2 separate regions of the Homo sapiens genome follow, and region 2 is linked to region 1. A link means that fine-mapping ties the variant in region 1 to the expression of a gene that starts in the linked region. Tissue or cell type: whole blood. Region 1 holds a variant in brackets; the other region holds the start of a gene. All regions are shown on one strand. Distances are from middle to middle.

Region 1 (2,757 bases):
AAATACTTATAACTTAAAATTCTAACAATGACAAAAATGAAGCAATCGCCAATTCCAGCTATTTTTTTCTCATTATTCAGAAAGAGTGTCATTTTGGAGAGTTCCTGCTGTTTTTATCACTGCTGTTTGTGTGTGTTGGGGGCAGATCTGAGAGCACCTCGAGGGCAGAGAGGGTATCACTGCTGTTTGAAATGCACTGCCTAGCTGGGCTGCCGGCTGTTCTCTGCGGGTGAAAGTGCGGTTGAATCTGCAGCAGACTAAGAACAGACCTCGGTTTCGGAAGTGAGTCTCATTCTACTCCACTCAAGGTGGTTCTTGTGGCATGGAAGGACATTGATATGTCTTTATTGTCTCAAACTCCCGAAACAGAAAACATTTTCAGGAGAGAAACGAGACAATTTTGGCCAAACTGTATGTAGCAAGTGCTTGGTAAACGTGTGGATGTCTGAGTGCAGAGAGCAGACCATGGTCTTCCAGAGCGTGGCCGACCTGCCTGGGCATCACATCAAGCATGAAAAACCTGCTTTGGCTACCTGCTCTTACCTCAAAGTCTATTTTTCAGAGTTGAAGACGAGCAATTTTTCTTTCCAGAGGTTCCAGTCCATGGCTTCTGGAGCCAGAGAGAGGTTAACTCCAGCGTTTTCGTCTCTGCGTGTAGGGAGAGTAGGTAAGTCTCTTGTTAAAACAGGTTCTCCCACACTCCAAGCCCTTGGTCTGTGTTGTGCCTGGTCCCTATGACAGCAGGGTCAGGGTGGCCTAAGCCTTGGCATTAGGGGACCTTTACAGTGACCAAAAATGCACGTGGAAACTACATTTTCAACAAACAGTCCATGCACTGGTGAAGAACGGTGATTGCTGCTAAGTGGGGGTGACATCAAGAAGTGGGAACCGGCCGGGCGCGGTGGCTCACGCCTGTGATCCCAGCACTTTGGGAGGCCGAGGTGGGTGGATCACGAGGTCAGGAGATCGACACCTTCCTGGCTAACACAGTGAAACCCCGTCTCTACTAAAAATACAAAAAAATTAGCCTGGCGCGGTGGCGGGCGCCTCTAGTCCCAGCTGCTCGGGAGGCTGAGGCAGGAGAATGGCGTGAATCCGGGAGGCGGAGCTTGCGGTGAGCCGAGATCCTGCCACAGCACTCCAGCCCGGGCGACAGAGTGAGACTTCGTCTCAGAAAAAAAAAAAAAAAAAAAAAAGAAGTGGGAACCCAGAAACTCATCTCCTGCCTGGAGCCTCACTTTCTGACCTTGTGAATCTCAGTGAGCCAACGTCTTCCGGCCTCAGTTTTCATACCTGTAGAAGGTGGTCAGATTGTGGGGGTGGGGGCGACCTTTCCAGCTGTAGATCCGTGCCTTGAGTAAACCAAATATGCAGGGACAAAGTTTACTTTGTGCTCCATTTCCACGGCCTTCACTTTTTGGTTTGAAAAACAAAATGCAACTAAAACCATTTCCAGATATAGACAAAAGAGCAAATGATTAGTGTCCCTTGACATAAACGGTTTAATAAACCAAAGTGGCCTCAATTTAGTTTCTGCACATACACGGCACCATAATGCTAGCTTGAATGTGTACTGAAGTGAACAAATATCAGTGTGTGAGCCTCTCGCTGGAAGACACGCTTCACTGCAGGAGGCATAAATAACTGGCGCTTTTTTTTCTGAAACACTTAGACATAGTCAAGACCACTTGACTATGGTTAGGTGTACCTT[A/T]AAAATATTCTTTCTTTCAATTCTGGTACCTAGCAGAAGCCCCAAAAGACCTATCAGGGTCTTGTAACAATGGTCCTTTTGGAAGCACTGACTATGGTTAGGTGTACCTTAAAAATAGTCTTTCAATTCTGGCACCTAGCAGAAGCCCCAAAAGACCTGTCAGGGCCTTGTAACAATGGTCCTTTTGGAAGCACTGGAAGTTGGATTGTTCTTTGGAATTCTGCTGAAGGTTTGGCCTAATATGGCCCAAGATTTGATGAGTACTTTTTTAAGGTGACCTGATCACTTACAGGAGGCATGATGGACCAGAATGTCTCCCCACCCTCTCATCATTCTGCAAGAAATAAAATGTGTGGCAGAGAAAACGATTTGGTGAAAACAAAAACAAAGATATAAAAAAGTAAACTGTTTAAGACTTTGAGAACAATATCCTTTGAATTTCAAATAACCATGTCCATATCTGAGAAGTATCCCTGAATTATCCAGGGCGGGGGCATCTCCAGGGAGATTATCCAGGGAGTCCTGAGGGCCACCTATGACGCCGAGTCATTAGTGAGTGGCAGAAACGCAGCTCCTAGGAGCAGCTGTAGAGCAAAGAGCTGTCCTGCAGGTAGTGGTCTCTGATGTTCCCTCAGCGCAGGCAGGGGATGAATGCTGCCCAGACCATCGCTGATGGGGCTGGCCCAGATCTACCTGTAGGTCAGCGTCCTCTGGGTAGCTTTAAAAAGTGGAGATGCTGAGGTTCTAGCCCAGACCTGGTGGGTCAGAGTCTGTAGCAGACAGGAACCTGCATTTGACTTACACAGATTCTTCAACGCTGCTGACGCACAGGCTGGGACCCACTGTGTCCAAGCCACAAAGCTCTAAAACTCCACAACAAGCTTCATGTGATGAGGTACCAAGTATTAGAAGCAGGACGTACCATCAAGCAAGCTCTTGTTATCAGTGAAAAGCTAAACATTGAATTTAGGGTCTGCCTGACTCCCAGGAAGGCATCCAGACCATTTGTGAGGTCACAGCCATGTTTTGTAAGTATTAGGTACTCA
Region 2 (2,628 bases), 330 kb after region 1:
ATTTTTGTGAATTTTGGGACTAAAAGACACCTGGAAGAAACATAAGGTGTTCTTTCCTTCGCCACCAAATACACAGGTAAGTGTGTCTATAGATAGCAAAGGTGTTTTCATCCCAAAGAAAAGTTAAGACTTAGGATGTAAAAAAATACAGAAAACAAAACATAGCCTAGGCGAACCAGCTACAGATCACATGCAGCAGGTGACAGGAAGCCTTGTGGACACCTCACACCCACAGGGGCGAGCTTCATCACAGGTCAACTCCAAGCCCACCTGAGCTCCTCAGAACCTCCACCTGGCAGGCCATAAACCAGAAGGTGGCAGACAGCATCACTGTCATGCCGGTAATAAAGGAGAAGCAGCCTCCCTGAACCCAAGAAAACCACCCCTCTCTCCAAGCAGGAAGAGAAGGCCCCTTCACACCAAGGACACAAAGAAACTGAAGCAGCCAGACCCAAAATAAAAATTAAATTTAAAAAGCAGCATGGGAAGACAGATGACAAATCTGTGCTGGGATCGCCTGGAATCTCGGTCTATATGGGGGTCTCACACTCAAAAGTAAAAATAAAATTTAAAAGGGGGATGACAGAGATGAGAGCCCAATTAGGTCTGTGCTGGGTTCACTTGGGGTCTCGGTCTACTTAGGGTCTCAGACTCAAAAATAAAATTTTAAAAATGAAAGGGGGAGGTGACAGTTCAATGTGTGCACGTGATGACCACTTGGGATCCAGTTCACTTGCTGGGAGGACAGGGGACAGGTACCTCTGTGCCCGGCCTCCAGGTTCTCCGGGAGCGCAGGCGCCCAGCGAGAATCTGGGCTAAGTTTAACTCGAGGGCGACGGGAGCAGTGCCCGAGGGCCAGGCTGCGGCTTTCTGGAAACAAAGCCCCGGGGGTCCAAGCCCAGATCCAGGGAAGGGGGTCGGACGCCCACCCATCCCCCTCCCCAGCCTCCCAGCCACCGACCCCTGCACAGAGGAGCGCCCTCCCGGCAGGTGCCCCTAACCCGGCGCCCCGACCCCCGCGCCCGGCGCGCGCCTCACCCAGCAGCGCCCGCAGGTGCTTCAGGCGGGTCAGCACGTCCTTCTTCGGGTCCAGCACCTTCTGGGTGGACTTCTTCACATCCCCGTGGCTCCTTCGGGAGAACATCCCGCGGCAGGAAGCCCGGGCCCCGCCGGCGGGGCAGTAGGCGCCTGCGCCACGCGAATCAAAGCATAGGGTCGAGGCCGGCGCGTGTCGCGCGGGCCACTCGCCGCCCCCAGCCCCGCTGCTGCCGCCGCCGCCGCCGCCGCCGCCGCCTCAGCTGTGTCTCCAGGAAGGAGGGGCGGGCCGGTCACGGCGAGGGGCGGGGCAGGAAGGCGGTGTCGACGGGGAACCGAAGGCCCCGCCCCGCGGGAGGTGCCGGCCGGCCCCTTGGGCGCTACGCACGCGCACACAGGCCGAACTCTCCTGGCGGGACACTAGCCCGTCCGCGCCAAAACCTAGCGGGGACGCGCTCAGAGGGCCGAGAAGGCGCCTCGAATCACAAAGGAGCTTCTCTCACGCACACGTTGTACTACAAGTCCCGAGATGCACCGCGAGACAGTCCTCCAATCAGGCTGGCGGTCTTCGGCACGATGGGAGTCAGTGGGCCGGCATTGGGCACGTCGCCCCGCCCTGCCGCGGGCCGCAAGTGCTCCTGGGAAATGAAGTTCTCCAGCAGGCGACGCGCTGCGACCTCTTTTCCAGGGTCGCAGAAGCGCAGGGCGGCCTCTGTCCGTCCCCTGCCCCGGCAGCCTAGATCGCCCGTGGTTTCACTCTCCCTCCTGCGCGCCCACCCCATTTTCCTCTAGTGCAACGTGAACCACACACGCCCAAAAATCTCAGTAAGAAAAGTGTCAAGGCTTTTCAAATGCAAACTATTTTTAGGTTTAGCTTCTGGATTCACACAAGGGAGCGAGTCGAAGCCCCTCTGACCGTGCCGAAATCGCAGCTCTAATTTCACACTAAAATGAGTTGCTTTGGCACTAGGGAAGAGCGTGCCCCGGTGAGGAGTTCAGCCGGCCCCTAGGTTCCTGGAACCCAACCTCACTTGGGGTATGGAGGTCGCTCGCTCAGAGGGCTCCTTGGGATCTTGCCTCTTTGTAGGAAGGGTGCGTTCTCTGTTGTGCAAGCCACATGGCGATCCAGTAGCAGAACCAGAAATAGAACCTGAGGGATCTGACTCAGGCCTGTATACTTTTTAAAGCCAGGCGCTTATTCCCTGGGGCAAGACTTTGAGCTGAAAGATGGTCAGGAGATTTCTTACACTGTAGGATTGTATAGTGGCATCCGAATCCTGCAAGTTTTGACATCCTTTCAGCTTTTTCAGCAAGTACTTAAGGTAGAATCACGTGGTTTCCATCCAAATTGGGACAACACAACTGTCTTTTTCTCCTCTAGCTGAACTGTAACTTGAGGGAAGAGACAAGGATTTACACGCCTTTGTATCCCCATCCCTCAGCACAGTATTTGGCCCATAGGGTCACTCAATAAAAGTTTATTAAATGAAATACAATAAAAAGCTAAAGTAGTCCTACATATTTCAACCAGGCAGGCGAAAAGGAAAAAATAAATAAATAAACTCACAGTTTTAGAGCGTCTCTCTATTTTTA

The links. PIP is the estimated chance that this variant, and not a neighbour inherited with it, causes the effect.
Region 2: it holds the start of RALGAPA2, and the variant in region 1 is fine-mapped to the expression of RALGAPA2 in whole blood (TOPMed, PIP above 0.99).

What each region holds. Positions count from the first base shown.
Region 1 is chr20:20,386,180-20,388,936 of GRCh38, forward strand. No RefSeq gene overlaps it. Among named protein-coding and RNA genes, the nearest start is that of INSM1, 19 kb to the left of the region's middle. The variant A/T (reference allele first, on the strand shown) is at 1,712.
Region 2 is chr20:20,711,337-20,713,964 of GRCh38, forward strand. RALGAPA2 (Ral GTPase activating protein catalytic subunit alpha 2) reads right to left here and starts at 1,308. Exons shown (of 40, transcript NM_020343.4): 1 at 1,039-1,308. The coding sequence starts at 1,144. RefSeq lists a silencer at 1,199-1,458 and enhancers at 1,450-1,744, 1,569-1,768.